Homo sapiens: one gene and its partner. The protein of the gene in region 1 interacts with the protein of each later gene in a pairwise test. Each region holds a gene or a part of one and is shown in the gene's direction. Other genes may lie near its edges.

What was found. The genes of interacting proteins can lie anywhere in the genome.
Region 2: the proteins of ATP13A2 (region 1) and NRXN1 interact in a two-hybrid assay, tested with the Homo sapiens proteins (one large-scale study listed by BioGRID).

What each region holds. Positions count from the first base shown.
Region 1 is NC_000001.11:16,987,929-16,991,428, reverse strand, and holds part of ATP13A2 (polyamine-transporting ATPase 13A2), read left to right. Parts: intron 1-1,141; coding exon 1,142-1,302; intron 1,303-1,425; coding exon 1,426-1,542; intron 1,543-1,658; coding exon 1,659-1,738; intron 1,739-2,954; coding exon 2,955-3,107; intron 3,108-3,194; coding exon 3,195-3,291; intron 3,292-3,500. UniProt on the Homo sapiens protein: ATPase which acts as a lysosomal polyamine exporter with high affinity for spermine. Also stimulates cellular uptake of polyamines and protects against polyamine toxicity.
Region 2 is NC_000002.12:50,546,133-50,549,632, reverse strand, and holds part of NRXN1 (neurexin-1 isoform alpha4 precursor), read left to right. Parts: intron 1-3,500.

The sequences.
Region 1 (3,500 bases):
TCAGAGGCTGTGACAAGCTCAAGGAGCAGGAAGAGAAAGATTCTGGCCGGGCACGGTACTTCATGCCTGTAATCCCAGCACTTTGGGAGGCCAAAGGAGAAGGATGTCTTGAACCCTGGAGTTCAAGACCAACCTGGGCAACATGGCAAAACTCCGTCTCTACAAAGAATACGAAAATGGCCGGGCACAGTGTCTCACGCCTGTAATCCCAGCACTTTGGGAGGCCGACGCGGGCGGATCACTTGAGGTCAGGAGTTCGAGACCAACCTGGCCAACATAGTGAAACCCCGTCTCTACTAAAAATACAAAAAATTAGCCAGGTATGGTGGTGGATGCCTGTAATCCCAGCTACTCGGGAGGCTGAGGCAGGAGAATCACTTCAACCCGGGAGGTGGAGGTTGCAGTGAGCTGAGATCACGCCATTTCACTCCAGCCTGGGCAACAGAGAGAGACCCAGTCTCAAAAAAAAAAAGATTCTAGCTAGGGTGAGACAGCAGGAGCTAAGAGGTCTGTGTCCTTGTCCTCCCCGCCCCTGCACACACACATATGTGCACACACATTCATGGGCACTTGGCAGCAGAGTCACACAGCAGTAAGGAGTATATGTAGCCTGGGCACATGGCTCGTGCCTGTAATCCCAGCACTCCGGGAGGCCGAGGCAGGGGGATCACCTGAGGCCAGGAGTTCAAGACCAGACTGGCCAACATGGTGAAACCCCATCTCTACTAAAAATGCAAAAAAAATTAGCCTGGTGTGGTCGCACCCTCCTGTAATCCCAGCTACTCAAGAGGCTGAGGCAGGAGAATTGCTTGAGCCCAGGAGGAAGGAGGTTGCAGTGAGCCGAGATCAAGCCACTGCACTCCAGCCTGGGCCACAGAGAGAGACTCTTGTCTTAAAAAAAGAAAAAAAAGGAGTATATGTGGAGCTCCAGCCCACGGCTCCAGGTTCTCCTAAGACCCTTCAATGCCTGGATCTACAGATGAGAAAACTGAGGCAAAGGGATGTTGGTAACCTGCCTCAGCTCACTTGGCTGGTGGTGGCAGACGGATTTCATCCAGCCTGTTTTCCCATCTGTAAGGATCAGGATGAGGATGGCCTCCCCGGATAGCCTCAGACCCTCACCTTGCCCCATAACCCCCAGGGGACAACCTGCAGACAGCGGTGACTGTGGCCCGGGGCTGTGGCATGGTGGCCCCCCAGGAGCATCTGATCATCGTCCACGCCACCCACCCTGAGCGGGGTCAGCCTGCCTCTCTCGAGTTCCTGCCGATGGAGTCCCCCACAGCCGTGAATGGCGTTAAGGTGAGGCTAACCCAGAGTTCCAGCTGTACCTCACCCAGTGACCCCACCCCTGTGTCACCTGACCCAGGCCCCAACTCTCCAGGGTGGGCAGGGGGAGCTAAGCTGAGCTTCCTGGGCCCCCAGGATCCTGACCAGGCTGCAAGCTACACCGTGGAGCCAGACCCCCGATCCAGGCACCTGGCCCTCAGCGGGCCCACCTTTGGTATCATTGTGAAGCACTTCCCCAAGCTGCTGCCCAAGGTAGGGCCGCCCCCAGCTCCCTGGCCGCCCTGCGCCTCCCCTGCTCTGTCTCCTTCCTCACGGCTCGCTCTCCCTGGTGGGTGCCTCAGCCCTCCCCCATCTCCCTGTGCTCCCAGGTCCTGGTCCAGGGCACTGTCTTTGCCCGCATGGCCCCTGAGCAGAAGACAGAGCTGGTGTGCGAGCTACAGAAGCTTCAGTGAGTGCTCGGCAGAGGGTGTGGGCAAGGGCCTGCGGAGACTGAGCTTGTCCGTTCGTCTGTTCATCTGTCCTTCCCCAGGGCCCTGTCTCCCTCCTCAGGCACCAGAGAGCTGTCACCCCTCCTCACCAAAAGCAGGCAGGCTCTCCCAGGTCTTTCATGCTAAAAATAATAATTGTAGGCTGGGTGCGGTGGCTCATTCCTGTAATCCCACCTCTTTGAGTGGCCGAGGTGGGAGGATCACTTGAGCCCAGGAGTTTGAGGCCAGCCTGGGCAACAAAGTGAGACCCCATCTCTTATTAAAAATTTAAAAATTAGCCAGGTGTGGTGACACACCGGTCATCCCAGCTACTCAAGAGGCTGAGGCAGGAGGGTTGCTTGAGCCTGGGAGGCTGCGGCTGCAGTGAGCCATGATCACACCACTGCACTTCAGCCTGGGCAACAGAGCGAGACTCCGTCTCAAAAAATAGTAATAGGCCAGGCGCGGTGGCTCATGCCAGTAATCCCAGCGCTTTGGGAGGCTGAGGCAGGCAGATCACCTGAGGTCAGGAGTTCAAGACCAGCCTGGCCAACATGGTGAAACCCTGTCTCTACTAAAAATACAAAAATTAGTTGGGCATGGTGGCGCACACCAGTAATCCCAGCTACTCAAGAGGCTGAGGGCACTTGGGCAGCAGAGGAGGTTGTAGTGAGCAGAGATCACGCCACTGCACTCTAGCCTGGGCAACAGAGGGAGACTCTGTCTCAAAAAATAATAGGCCGGGCACGGTGGCTCATGCCTGTAATCCCAGCACTTTGGGAGGCCGAGGCGGGTGGATCACCTGAGATCAGGAGTTTAAGACCAGCCTGGCCAACATGGTGAAACCCCATCTCTACTAAAAATACAAAAAATTAGCCAGGCGTGGTGGCGGGCGTCTGTAATCCCAGCTACTTGGGAGGCTGAAGCAGGAGAATCACTTGAGCCCAGGAGGCAGAGGTTGCAGTGAGCTGAGATCATGCCATTACACTCCAGCCTGGGCAACAAGAGTGAAACTCCGTCTCAAAAAATAATAATAATAATGATAATAATAATAATAATTGCATCTATTCACTGAGCGCCTCCTGTACACCAGGCACCATGTGGCATTAGGGGCCCAGCTGTCATCATATTCTGCCAGCCCACCCATGGGGTGGTGGGGTAATTCCCCAGGCCACACCTGTCCACACCTCTCTTCAGGTACTGCGTGGGCATGTGCGGAGACGGCGCCAATGACTGTGGGGCCCTGAAGGCGGCTGATGTCGGCATCTCGCTGTCCCAGGCAGAAGCCTCAGTGGTCTCACCCTTCACCTCGAGCATGGCCAGTATTGAGTGCGTGCCCATGGTCATCAGGTAAGGCAGGCAGGGACCGGTGGGTGAGGGCTCAGCAGGGCTGGTCAGCCAACCTGGGTCCCCTAATGTCCGTGCCCTGCCACCCAGGGAGGGGCGCTGTTCCCTTGACACTTCGTTCAGCGTCTTCAAGTACATGGCTCTGTACAGCCTGACCCAGTTCATCTCCGTCCTGATCCTCTACACGGTGAGTATCTGCAGAGCTCCGTACCCAGAGCCGTCCCAGGACTAGGGAGGGGACACAGCCCTGTGCCTTGGAGCTGGCAGGTCCCAGAATAGATGACGTGGGCCCAGATCCTGACCCTGCCACTCTCCGGCTGTGTGGTTGGAGAGGTGGCAAGGCTTGGGGGAGATGAGAAAAACACCAGGCACGGAGCCTGGTACCCACTAGGTCCT
Region 2 (3,500 bases), on another chromosome or scaffold:
TTACAAAGCTCAATTCTGTATGGGAAGAACAGAAACACGTTCTAAGGAAGTGTTGTTTGCATCTAAGAAAGAAAATAAACGAAGCATGAGATTTTTCTTTGAATCCAGTGGAAAGATCAGATTACTATGCTTGGTGCTGTTGTGATGGTAAAGTACTTTTATGTGATTAAAATTTCAGATTAGTGAATTGGTACAAACAATATAAAAACCAAAGTTCATTCACTAAGCCAAGTTCTGTCCTTTATTAAATTGAAAAAAAATAGAGCTCATATTAGGTTAGCCTAGCTCAAGGGTGTTTAATGTAATTTTAATAGCAGCTGTTAATATTTTATATATAGTATTTTAATTAAGTTCCATATTTGCACACTGCATTGGTTTGGTATGGAGTAGCCTTTTAAAAATTGAATGAATGGCTATACTTGCTTTTATTTTACTTAAAGGATATTTCTGATTTGGCTGGTGAAACAGTAAGATTCAGAGGTCACTTACAACTAAGAAACATGGAAATTTCATGAAATAATTTATTTTACCCATTTTTTATATCAGTTATATTCAGGGGCTATATGAATATTATTTTTCATATAATGTGGAGAAAGTGTACTGCTATGACAAGAGGGTAACATGGGCTCCTTTCTGACATACAGATAATGAGGCCATATCTGTTGATTTGCCTGGAATATTCCTTAGCTCAGTATTTTAAAAGCCTTATTATCTCTGTTATTAAAGTAGAGGGAACCCACGCCTAAGAGCAATTCTTTCTGCTGTTGGCCATACTAAAGTAAATAGAAATATAATGAGACCATTATGGTCATTAATTTGCTGCCAATCTAAGTAGTGGTTATTTTTGGATAGAGAGAGGGTTAAAATCATATTTGGTGGACACAAATGATTTAATTTTAATATTACCCACTTTATAAGGTTCATAATTTCCATCCCAGATAGAGAAAATTGTATTTATTTTTTTATCCACAGTTTCTAGTACATTCCTGGGTATAGCAGTTGTTCAGTATATATTTGGTATAAGAAAAACTAAAGATTAAAAACATGTAAGTAGTACAGTGCCAAACAACCCCTGATACTCTAAAAAAAAATAAAATAAAATAAATTAGCAGCATCATTTTTTACATTTGGAGAATAATGGCACTCTTTTAATTGTAAATGCAACTTTTTTAACTGTAAGCATTTATTTAAATTACATTACTTTCTGAAAGCAGTTTATATGATATAGGATAAAAACTGGTGTTCTCTTGTGAATGCAACACCATCCTCCAAGCCCAGATGTTTGAAATAAGCCACTGAGAAAGTTAAATAATTGTTAGCGAATGTGTAAACCTGGTACAAAAATGACAAGTTTTTATGAGAACAGGACTTCTGTCCCTTCTTGGTCTTGAGGTCCCTATATCATTTTGCAGACATTTAGGGAGCAGGAAAATCCATCAAGAAGGAAGGTGGTAACTCCTTTCTGAGGACTGGGATATGCAACCACAGTAAGTGTGCTCTTGACAAGAACCTAGGATGTCCATCTTTTTGGTGGCCTTCCCTTTGGTTCTTTGGTCTTTAGTTCACTGAAAGGGGTATATGAACCCCTTATTCAATGAGAAATAACACCTTTATGTGTAATTTTCTAAAACTTTCTCATTTTGGCAAAACTGATTGTAACTGGTTATTTCTAACATATGTTCCTTCTTCCAATCTGAGACATGGGGAAAATTCACTCTAATTTCCACAGTTTGACTAATTCTGCTTGGCTATAGCTGTTCTTTATGTGCAGTGCAGCTTTCTTCCACTGCCTGCTCACTAAAGGGTCAGGGACATGGAAAGCCAAGTGGGCTGAGCCGTAAATGGCACTTCCAGATCCTGCAGTAAGCTAGCAAAGGAGAAACCATACCAAGTGCAGGCATGATTTAGTGAATCAGAGTGGATGACTTCAGTGCTGCAAAATGTAAATAACCTCTGTGGATAACTTAGCTACTAACAGGGCAAAACCCCTAAGTCAGTGGACTTAATAAATATGATTGAAGAGGCCCATTACTTTGCAATTTTTGCAGGACTTACAGCTGAGCGTTTTTGTTGTTGTTGTTGTTTTTAAACCAGTCTCTCTCTTTCCAGACTTCCCCTTTGCCTCTTCTCTGGTCCCACCCTCAACACAAAACAGCTGCCCAGGTATTTAGCTAAACTGTGAATGGAGCTACAATTAGGATGAGGTTAATGATTGTTTTCTTGGGGCACAAATATTGTTTAAATTTGTGTTAAACTCTGGCTCAGTCAAAGTACCCTCTCAAGTATTTTTATAGCAAACTGCCAGTCTTATTTTATTTATTTATTTATTTATTTTGTAAACCATCATTACACATTGAAATCAAAGAGAAAACTCATTATTCTTGTCAAAGTTGGCTTGTATACAGCAGGGTACAGCTGATTGTGTCAGCGGTTATTCATGGGTAAGCCTACATTTAACAGCTAAGAAGCCATTGAGATTTGAATTGAAGTCGTAGAGTTCCAGTTTAAGAACTAGATATTACAGTGGGAAAGGTACAAGGCTCTCTCAAGAGCACATAATTAGAGGTTTATAGTAATCACTGTTTGATGTGAACAGCACTTTCTAGCTATCTATTACCAGCACTGATTTCTGTGTACACCATTCATGAATCACCACACTTAAACATTTCTACTTGAGCAACCATTAGACAATTTCTCTGCTTAGGTCTTGTTTGAACTTGCCCTCTGACTGTAAATGTTCCTCCCATGCCTCTGCCTAGTAGCCTGTTATATACATTGAAGTAATTTTAAGTGCATTTATATTTTGTTTCATATCCACACCCATAAACCACTATTCATCAGAGGAAACACCGAAATACCTTACCAATAATTTACTAGTTCTTTGATCATATGACCAGATGGGGTCAATTTTGCTTAAAATTGTAATGTTAAGTTTTATTAAAATGTTTATATTTATTTATTCTGAAGAAGTTTATAGAAAAAAATCATTTATTGTTTCTCCACACTCAAAGTATTTTTTATATTTGTACATTTTCCTTCAGTTTTTGTTAACATTATATATATTTTATATAGTTGCAGTTAGAGTATAAACATAATTTTTCAGGCTATCTGTTTAATATGGTGTTATGTACTCTTTTGCTCAAGATCATCTAAGTAGCAAAATTTATTTTCTGGGAATTATGGAATCATAAGCAAAGATTCAGAGCAGAGCTTTTCAGAAGTACCTGAGCTAGGCCCCTGGGCTTGTAGAACTTAAATGTATTAACATATCTAAAGAAAAGAAACTCACAGGGGCAAATATTAGCAGTAATCTTCTGAACACTGCTTAGCGAACTTGACAACTTCATCCCCACTGTAAAGATGGAGGCAGGTCATTTAACTGAGATAAGGGTGTCAAGCCTTCCCAGGCCAATATTACTATACATTTCCTTATCTCATGCATTCTTCTTGTTCAGAATCCATGTTCCCCATGCACTCTTTTGATTAAGATTTAGTTCCCA